Linked DNA regions of Homo sapiens: region 2 is linked to region 1. Evidence: fine-mapped expression QTL. A gene starts in region 1. The other region holds a variant in brackets. All regions are shown on one strand. Distances are from middle to middle.

Region 1 (5,380 bases):
TAATGCTCTAATGTAATTATAATGCATAGAATATACACTGTTTTACTCACTGCTCAGTATGCCTATCCTCTTTTCTAAATTTGAATTTTAATATTTCAGCAAAACGAACTAATAAAAGGCAGTTTCCTAGCAACGTCTGTATTCAAAGGAACAACAACAAAGCTTAATCGCAAACACCTTATTTTCTCCAAAGTTAATTCCCGTCTTTTGAGGGAAGTTAGCAGGTAGCAAATAAAGCAAGGTGCAAACAGAGGCTCTTGTAGGAGAGGTTGGCACAGACTCACTTGGCTTTTTCTTTCTGGGCATTGAAAGGTAGGAAGGTTAGAACTTCAGCTAAGCCAGTCTTTCCCAATGGTTGCAGTCAGAGATTGATACAAAACCCCAGAACTGTTTGCTATTTTATCCATTCTCTGCTGGAGATGCAGATTGATTGGTGGAAGGAACAGTGAACTAGGAAGCCAGGTTGTTGGATTCCTAGTAACTCTCACACTACCCGCGAAAACTTGAGCAGGCCCTCTTTTTCTGGGCTGTGTATCCAAATGGCGGTTACTCTAGAAGACATAAGTGAAAGGTCCTTCTCAGCAGCTCAAAACGGCTACCAGTAACCGGGTCTTTTTTATTTTTTAATTAAGCTTAAATGGCATTTGCTTAATCAATAATACAGTTTCACTAGAACTAATGCTGCATCCCCAGAAAAGCATCACTTAGAAATTAAACAGCTGGCTGTCTTCCAGGGAAACGTGTCCCTGTGTCCTGCCTTCCTGAGACTTCTTGCCTGCACGCGGGGCCCAGCCGCGCCAGAGAGATGGAAGTGACTTTACCTACCCAGCGAAAGTAGCAGTCTGCAACAAGGAAAACAGCTAAGTTAAGAGGAAGTGGTTTTCATTTTACTGCTTGCAGAAAGGCCAAGATTTTGACGTTTAAAGCGGGCACACGAGTCATTTTAAGTCTCTAGATCTTTCACCCTGAAAGTCCCTGCACAGAAACTCCATAGGGAGTCTAAATATAGCAACAGCACCCCCTCCCGCCCCCTCCGCCTTCAGTCAGGGTCCCGCGCAGCTCTAGGATTGGAGAGCTTACTCCAGGGCGCTCTCTGCATCTGCCTCGAATAGCACCGCACGGAGCAACCTCTCTCGCACCTCCACAGTGCGTGGGTGTGAAGTGTATTAGGGGAAAGCTAGAGAGTGACTCTGGGTGATGGTGCTCGGCTCACAGTCACATGGCGTCGCCGCCAGCTGCACAGAGCTCCCAGCTAGCTTCTGCTGCCCAGAGGCTTGGGGGGAAGGAGGGAGGGAAGCAGGCTCCTGCTGGTGACCAGGAGCAGGCGAGAGGGCTTCACACAAATAATAGTGATAATAAAGAGTAAAAGCAAAGCATTTAAATCGAGCTATTGCAGAAGACAGAAATCAGCTGCCGCGGGCGTGGGTGTGTGTACAGGGTGGGGGAGAATTGGGAAAGTATTTATCTCGGAGGGGCGGAGACAGCTGCAAGAAGACTTTTGTCTTAGCATTGTTTTAGCCTTAGGAAAGGAAAAGGCCCGAAGGAATCCACCTTGCAACTATCTGCTATGTCTTTGTGGTGGAAGCTTAGTTTTGCCTTCAATTTAATTTGATGATTTTCTTTCATATTTGGGGAAGAGCCACTCTGTTGGAAGAAGTCCCCGAGCCTGGCACCCTTCAGTTTTCCCTATGCTGAATGTGAGATTTAAACTGCCTTTTCTTTGTAATACACTGTTTCTGAAGGCCAGAGGCTGCGGCCAGTGGCACCGTGGCCTCTCTCTCCGCCAAGGGCGCATAGGCTTTGGGCCACCCGGGTGCCAGGGGTGGTGGAAGACCCAGTCAGTTGTTCCTTGCAACAGGTCTCTAAGCTTGTATGTTACAACATAAGGTGGGTGGGGTCGGAACCCCGAAAAGCCGGCGTCCTGGACACCCCATCCTCCAGGTGTTCTTTCCCAGACACTGGGTCCTCGCCGCCGCTGCTGAACTTCTCAATCATATGACTTTCTCGGACTTAAATGGAAATTTCTTGACGGAGGGAACTGGGTTTGTTCTCCCAGGCTTCGCGCTGCAGTCAGGCAGAGCCCCGGGGCAGCTCGCTCACCGCGGAGGAGCCACTTTGGAGTTTTACGCCCTTTCCACACCCCACCCATGGACTGGAAAGGATGTTCAGTTACTCGCGAGCTTGTCTGATACTGGGATGGAAAGTCACAGTCCGCAGGCTGGAGTGAGGCGCGGGAAGATGCCTGGTCCTTGCCTCGCGGACTTGGCAGCCGCGTCCTGCGGGTCTGTCCACTGAACTGCTGAGGACTCGCCCGTGTGCGGGGACCCGAGTGCCACTTCCCGGAGCGTTACCTTGCGCTCCAGCCTCCAGGCTAGATAATACCTGGAAGGCAGGGCAGGGCTGTTCCCGCTCTCACCCCTTGCGGAAGGATGGCAGGATCCGGCGCAGCGACGTAGCAGCGGGAGGGCACAGCGACCTGCATCTCCAGTTTCTCCTCAGGACACAAGGCTGACTTCACCTTCCGGACAGCTGCAAAGCCCCTGCCAGAACCAAACCGAACTCGCGCCTCGGAGAGGGGCTTCTGGGGCCGTTTCGCTGCAGGGCGTGGGGAGTGGAGAGAGGGAAGGGGAAGCCTGGGGCTGGGTGTGCGCGCGTGGGAGCGCGCCTCGGAGCGCCCCGCACTCCCCCACTCTATCCCCGGGGGCAGTTTGGGAAGGAGGGAGTGGTAGTCGCGGGAATGAGGGAGCAAGAGAAACCCTCTCAAAGTGACGCCCCAAACAGGTCCGGATTTAGAATTCGAAGCTAAAGGCTGTTAGAAATTGGGACTCCTCGGCCTCCTCTGCAGCCCCTCCTTTCCCGCCCCGAAGCCCGGGCGGTTTGCTGGCTGCCTGCTTCCCCGCCCCCGGCTCAGAGGTCTCTGGCTGGCGGGCGCCCCGTCGGCCGCCGGCTTCCTCCTTGAAACCCGCCGGCGCACATGAGGCCGCTGCCCCCGCCGCAGGCGCTGGCGGCCCCCTCGCGGTGCCCGTGGTGATGCCATGCCCCGCCACCACGCGGGAGGAGAGGAGGGCGGCGCCGCCGGGCTCTGGGTGAAGAGCGGCGCAGCGGCGGCGGCGGCGGGCGGGGGGCGCTTGGGCAGCGGCATGAAGGATGTGGAGTCCGGCCGGGGCAGGGTGCTGCTGAACTCGGCAGCCGCCAGGGGCGACGGCCTGCTACTGCTGGGCACCCGCGCGGCCACGCTCGGTGGCGGCGGCGGTGGCCTGAGGGAGAGCCGCCGGGGCAAGCAGGGGGCCCGGATGAGCCTGCTGGGGAAGCCGCTCTCTTACACGAGTAGCCAGAGCTGCCGGCGCAACGTCAAGTACCGGCGGGTGCAGAACTACCTGTACAACGTGCTGGAGAGACCCCGCGGCTGGGCGTTCATCTACCACGCTTTCGTGTGAGTACCCGCGCCCCCTGCTATGCCCGCTGCAGGGGACCACTGTCCCTGGCCCCCTGGGGCGTGCTCCGCGCTCGCGCCCTTGGGCCCCCGCGCGCGTGCACACGTGGTGGCTTTTATTTCTTCGCACGTGTTCGTGGTCTTCCTTCTGGAGCCTCTCCCCTCCCCCAGCCCCACTTCTCTCATCTCTACAGCTTGAACCTTTTCCCCGAGGACACCCAATGAACTGCCCGGTAGCTTCAGGCTCCCGGGGCGAGAGCCAGGCAGACGCGGGACTTAGGCTGCGCGGATAATTGGGAGCAATTAGGTCCCAAGATACGTAAACTTCAACCGAACGGGGCGCCCGGGAGCTAGGGAATGCAAAGGGAGGACAGGCGCCCGTGTGAGGCTTGAGAGTATACTGGAGAGGTTAGGAGGTGATGGCGGGGTAGGACGGGGAGAAGTGAGGGGGCATCGAGGGCTAGGTCCTCAGTCCTAGGGGCGGAGTAGGGGAAGCTGCTACTTGGAGAGAGCTGCTAGGTTTTAAGCGCGCCCGGAAACACGCCTCGCCACCACCCAGCCACCACCAACGGAAAATCTGTCAGTGCATGTAGCCCTTCCTGCCACGGAGAAGGTGGCCAAGGTCTAGAGGAGGCCAGCAGGCCAGGCGAAGCAACGCTCCCGCGCTGCAGGGGGCGGGGAGGCAGCGGGGAACCTGGGGCGCAGGAACGCGGGCGGAGGTGCGATAGCAGAAGCGCAAATGGGTCGCCTCTGACAGAGATCGGGCAGTGGGTTAAGTCCCCGTTTGTGGCGCGGAGTCAAAGAGTGTGTGTGTGTGTGTGTGTGTGTGTGTGTGTGTGTAGTAAGCCTTCTCCATCTAGCAGAGAATGCTTAATGAGAAAATGATTGGAAGCAAATGTTTATTTTTCCCTTAGGCATTTAAAACCTTTCAGTGGCTTTAAAGTTTACTACTGTTTTTCCCACAAAGTCCATTCATTCAGTCTCCTATTAGAGTTACGTTTATCTGGGCATTTTAAGGTTGTTTTTATAATGTTACCTCGTGTCTAATTCTTTTTTTCTTCCTCTTCTCCTTTTGCTTCCTCTTTTTTTAGTATTATTATTTCTGCTTCTTTTTTGTTAAGATGAAATATAAAGACATCAACCTTAGAAGACCAGTAGAGAAAGTTGCAGATACTCGCTGATACATTCCTTGTTTCCTAGTAAAATAAGTTTTGAGCACACGGACTAGGTTTCTTTTAGAAATAAGTTATGTCATCCATACATAGCTCTCTCCTGGGATGCAGAATTAGCATCAACACCAGAAACGTGTTTTGAAATAACATGGAAGAAGGGCTGGTTTTGTAACTAGGTGAACCTGGAATTCAACCACATAGGAGTCAGGAAATTGGTGGAGTCTACAATCTGTGGGGCTCTGGTGTCTGGAAAATTTTACAGTCCCAGATTGACGTGAACATGTAGCATTAGGCAGAATATTCCAGCCAACTTTCCGTTTTACAATGCACACAAGGAGAACGGTTGTGTTGCATCATCATTACATCAAAAAGTATAACTTTTATGTAAAATTCACATTTATTTAAATGTGGTTAGGATAATGATAGAGAAATGCAACTGACACTTTTCTCGTTAATCTCCTCTGACCTGATATGTAATTAAACATATTACTTAATAAGCCTGGTAAATTATTTTGACCTGTCAGAATATACTAAAATAATTTAGCAATTATAATGCTCAATTTGGTAGCAAATATATATACTGTATAGGTTATGATTTTTTCTTTACAACAGTATGCTCAAAACATTTCTAGCCTTTCTTTTTTTTATATTATGCATTGTATATTCAGAGAGAGTTAAAGAAAGCCTTGGTTGGTGCACATACTTTGCATCTCCTAACTTGTTCTTGAACATGAATGAGAACTTGCAACACAACATTTTCTTTTCCATGTGTTGG
Region 2 (5,380 bases), 79 kb before region 1:
ACTGTGAAAGACTCTAATTCTCCCTCATTTCTGGATGATAGATTTGCTTGGTATGGTATTCTTTGTTGGCAATTATTTTTCTTTCAGTGCTTTGAATGTTTCTTTCTATTCTCTGTTAATCTAAAAGATTACTGTGGAGAAATCTGCTTTTAGTCTAATTGGGATTACCTTGTAGTGACTTGATACTTTTGCTGTATTTAGAATTCTGTTTTCTGTCTTTGTCTTTGACTTTTGACAATTTACTATAATGTACTTTGGAGGAGGATTTTTTAGGTTGAATTTATTTGGGGACCTTTGATCTTCCTGGATCTGGATGTCCACATTCCACCTCCCTGCCCCGCCCCCACCCCCCCACCCCCACAAGACTTGAAAAGTTTTCAACTATCATTTTATTAAATAGGTATTCTATACTTCCTCTCTTGTTTTTCCCTTCTGGAACTCCCATAATATGAATATTTGTTACCTTAATAATGTCTCATAAGTCTTGTAGGCTTTCTTTACTCTTTTCCATTTTTATTTATTTTTTCTTTTGTATCAGTAATTACAAACAATCTATCAGCAATTCCAATGATTCTTTGTTCTGTTTGATAAAGTCTGCTGTTGCTGCTTTCTATTGTATTTTCTCTTTCATTCATTGAATTCTTTTTTTAAATAATTTCAACTTTTATTTTACACTCAGAGGATACATACGCAGGCTTGTTACATGGGCATATTGCATGATGCTGAGGTTTGGTATATGATTTTGTAACCCAGGAAGTGAGTATAGTATCCAATAGTTATTTTTCAACCCTTGCCCCCTTTCACCCTGCCTCTGTTAGTTCCAAGTGTCTATTGTTGCTGCCTTTATGTACATGAGTACCCAATGTTTAGCTCCCACTTATAAGTGAGAACAAGTGGTATTTGCTTTTCTGTTCCTACACTAATTCACTTAGGATAATGGCCTCCAGTTGCATCCATGTTACTGCAAAAGACATGATTCCATGTTTTATTGCTCTGTAGTATTCCATGGTGTATAGGTATCACATTTTCTTTACCTTTAACAACTGATGGGCACTTATGTTGATTCATGTCTTTGCTATTGTGAATAGTGCTGCTAAATGTATAAGTGCATATGTTTCTCTGGTAGAACAATTTATTTTCTTTTGGATACATACCCTGTAATGCGATTGCTGGGTCAAATGGTAGCTCTGTTTGAAGTTCTTTGAAAAAGCTTCAAACTGCTTTTTACAGTTAGTGCAATTACATTTCCACTAAGAGTGTATGTGTTTCATTTCCTCTGCAGCCTTGACCACATATGTTGTTTTTGACTTTTTAATAGTTATCCTGACTACTATGGAGTGGTATCTCACTGTGGCTCTGATTTGTACTTCAATGATGATTAGTGATGATGATTAGTGATGATTTTCATGTCTGCTAGCTGCCTATATATGTTATTTTGAGAAGTGTCCGTTCATGTCTTTTGCCCACTTTTTACTTGGGTTATTTGTTTTTTGTTTGTTGATTTGTTTAAATTCCTTATAGATTCTAGATATTAGACCTTTATTGGATTGATAGTTTGTAAATATTTTCTCCCATTTTGTAGGTTGTCTGTTTACTCTGTTGATAGTTTATTTTGCTGTGCATAAGTTCTTTTGCTATGCAGAGGTTCTTTAGTTTAAACTGCAGGATTTCAGTTTGATTCTTTTTTCATGGTTTCTATCTCTTTGTTTTACTTATCATTCATATTGTGAATTATTTCCTGGTTTTGCTAAATTATCTGTCTGTTCCATTGTATCTCATTGAGTTTCCTTAAAATCAATTATTTTGAAGTCCTTTTCTGGTAATTTATTGATTTCAATTTCATTGGGATCTCTTACTAGAGAATTATGTTTCTTTGGTGGTGTCACATTTTATTTGGTTTTTGCAGTTTTTTGTGTGCCTGCATTGACGTCTGTGTATCTGGTGGGGCAATGACCTCTTCCATAGTTTCTAGAGTGGCTTTCATAGAGAAAGAATTTCACCTCCAGTTGGGTTTTAGTGTGCCAGTTGAGAAGGATGTAGAGACGGTGTTTCCAGATAAGTGCAGTGTTACAGTCTCCATGTAGCTTCTTCAGCTGTGTTCAACATCAGCAATAAACTGTGAATGTCTCAGTAGTCTAGGCTGTAGAGTTCAGGTGTTTGAAGCAACTGTGGGGTCAAGGTCCTAGGCTCAGAATCTCACAAACTTATTACGACAGCTTGGTCTTAGGGTATAGGTTTATGTTCTGTGGCACGGTTGAATGCAGGCTGCCTACAAAGCCAGGATCTGTGACTCTGAGATATTTCCTAGCTGCTTGGGCCAAGGGACCAGGCTGTAGCTATGATTCTACCCATGAAAGTCAGGGCACAGCATCGGCCCAACTCTAGGGGAAAAGAAGTGCTCTGGAGGATTGGTCCTAGAAGGTAGGGTAAAGTTGCAATTCAGAAACTTGAGCCAATACATCTTAATGGCAATTCAGGTCCCGAGAATTGAGACATTGTGCAGTAGTGACCCTTGACCCTGTGATGGTGGGGCTTGGCAGTATCCCAGACTCTGTGAATCCAGACACAGTGGTAGCAAGTACTCCAGACTGGCAGAGCACAGATGTTGTTTGGGCCCTGGTGGAGAAGAACAGAAAACAGTATAGCAATAACCCCACTCCCCAAGAACAGCGATATTTCAGCAGCAAAGACTCTAGAGGGCTAGTCCAGCTCAAGGGAAGCAGAATATTAGAGTTTAGTAGTTTGGCCTGTAGGGTGGGGTCTCTCAAATCAACCAGTGCTCTGTTCTCCTGGAATGCAGTGTACTATGTCAGCTCATCCCTGGAATGAGCAGCAGCCCAGCTGGGCCAGGGCACCAATTCCCCAGCAGGGCAATGTGCTACTTTAGCTCATAGCTGGAAGCATGATTTTTTCTGAGCAACCCAGGTACCATTTATCTGAGTTGCAGGGCACTGCTTCAATGTAGATACTGGAATGTGTGACTGCTCTAGGTAGACAAGGCATCATTTTTTAAAATGCAGGGTGCTACTTCAACTTGGGCATTAGGGAGGCATGACTGTTCTTAGTGGCCAAAGTACTGTTTTTCAAGGTGCAGGGTATTGCTTCAGCTCTGGTTTGAGGTGGGAGGGGAAGGGGTAGGTGGAGCAGCTCTACCTCCATTTGGTCCTATGGGTAAGGTTGTAACAGCTGCTCACAGCTCTCGTTGGGGATGTTGGGTCACA[G/A]TTGATGGTGGTTCAGTGATGGCTTAGCCTCAGGGATGAAGGGTAACTGTGGCTACTTGCTCCTGGAACAAGACACATGCCAAGCATAGTTCCAGTTCAAGATGGTGTAATACAGTAGCAATATGTGGCACAGAGGATAGGGCAGAATGTTAATTCCTTCTCTGAGCAGAGCACAACTATGTGGACTCCAGGCAGCTCTGTCAAATAGGCTTAGTCCCCATGAGAATTGCAGGGGACCCCAGTGGTGAGGTCTGTAGGTGTCCAGGGTGTTGATGGGAGATGCTGAGATCTTCTTGCTTACCTCCTTACCTGAGGGACAAGTTTCTCCTGTATCCCAGTTGTGGGATGAAGTAGTGTAGCTTTGGCCTTTCCTTCCATTCTTTATATGGCCATCCTGAATAGCTTTGCACACCAGGGTTTCTATCACTTGTCTGATTAACTCTGACACTCCGCCTTCATTATTTTTGTTAAAATGTAGTTGTTTATTTGTTTTTCTGGCTATCTTTGTGAGGGGAAAAAGTGCTAGGAACTTCCAGTCAACCATCTTGTGATGTCCCTCCTCTCTTGATTTTACTGACTTTTCTATTGTTTTTCTATTCCCAATTTTATTTATTTTCATTATAATTTTTATTATGTTTTTCCTTTGACTTGATTTAATTAATTTGCTCCTTTTCCTAGTTTTACAGAGAAAGTTAAATTGCTGATTTCTTTTTTTCTTTTAATATTGACAATTTACAACTATAAATTTACTATTCATATTGCTTTTGCCACATCTCTTAAGTTTTGGTATGATGTGTTTTCATTTTCATTCATCTCAAACTATTTTCCAATTTCCCTTCTGATTTCTTATGTGACCCATTGGTTATTTAGGAATGTGAGGTTTGATTTCTACATCTTTGTTCACTTCTAAAATTTTCTTCTGTTAATGATTTCTAATTTTATTCTATGGTAGTCAGAGAATATACTTTGCATGACTTTCATTCTTTTAAATTTAACAAAAGTCATAGCCAAACTTATAATGAATCTTACAGAATGTTCCATGTGCACTTCAGAAAAATGTGTATTCTGCTGTTTTTGAGTGTAGTGTTCTGTATCTGTCTGGTTGGTATTTAATGTTGTCCAAGCCTTCTATTTTCTTGATGGTGTAACAAGGCCCTAACTCTCTTCTATTCTATGAAGGCCAAGAGAGATGAGAAAAACTAGAGAAGAAAAGTTGGAAGCTGGCAGAGACTGGTTCATGAAGTTGAAGAAGCCATCTCCACAACCTAAAATTGCAAAGTGAAACAGTAAGTGCTCATGTAGAAGCTGCAGCAAGTTATCCAGAAGATCCAGCTAAGATAATTAATGAAAGTGGCTACACTAAACAATAGATTTTCAAGGTAGAAAAAATAGTCTTTTGTTGGAAGAAAGTGCCACATAGGATTTCCATAACTGGAGAGGAAAGTCAATGCCTTGTTTCAAAGCTTCAAGGGAAAGGCTGATTCTCTTGTTAGGGGCTCATGCAGTTAGTGACTCTAAATCGCAGCCAATGTTCATTTACCATTCTGAAAATTTTAAGACTTTTTAAAATTATGTTAAATCTATTCTTCTGGCGCTCTATAAATTGAACATAGCCTGGATGATGCCACTTCTGTCTACAGCATGGTTTCCTGTATATTTTAAACCCATTGTTGAGATCTACTTCTCAGAAGAAAAGATTTCTTTCAACATATTACTGGTCATTGACAATGCGCCTGGTTACTCAAGAGCTCTGATAAAGATATACAAGGAGATAAATGTTATTTTAATGGCTTATAACACAATATTCATTCTGCAGCCCATGGATCGAGTAGCAATTTCTACATTTAAGTCTTATTACTTCAGAAATATATTTTGTAAGGCTATAGTTACCATAGGTAGTTATTCCTCTCATGGATCTGGGCAAAATAAATTTCAAAGCTTCTGGAAAGAATTCATCATGATAAATGCTTTAGAATATTAGTAATTCATGAGAGGAGGTCAAAAAACCATCAATAATAGGAGTTTGGAAGAAGTTAACCTAACCCTCATGGATAACTTTGAGGAGTTGAAGACTTCACTAGAGAAAGTAACTACGGATCTGGTGGAAATAGCAAAAGAATTAGAATTAGAAATGGAGCCTAAAGATGTGACTGAATTGC

The links. PIP is the estimated chance that this variant, and not a neighbour inherited with it, causes the effect.
Region 2: its variant is the best candidate, but not a certain one, in a credible set for the expression of KCNQ5 in whole blood (TOPMed, PIP 0.50).

The regions. Positions count from the first base shown.
Region 1 is chr6:72,619,155-72,624,534 of GRCh38, forward strand. KCNQ5 (potassium voltage-gated channel subfamily Q member 5) reads left to right here and starts at 2,910. Exons shown (of 14, transcript NM_019842.4): 1 at 2,910-3,433. The coding sequence starts at 3,036. It overlaps KCNQ5-DT (KCNQ5 divergent transcript), which reads right to left and starts at 3,525. Exons shown (of 3, transcript NR_186827.1): 1 at 3,378-3,525. RefSeq lists enhancers at 1,295-1,484, 3,595-4,546 and silencers at 2,905-3,164, 4,195-4,244.
Region 2 is chr6:72,540,081-72,545,460 of GRCh38, forward strand. No RefSeq gene overlaps it. Among named protein-coding and RNA genes, the nearest start is that of KCNQ5, 79 kb to the right of the region's middle. The variant G/A (reference allele first, on the strand shown) is at 3,222.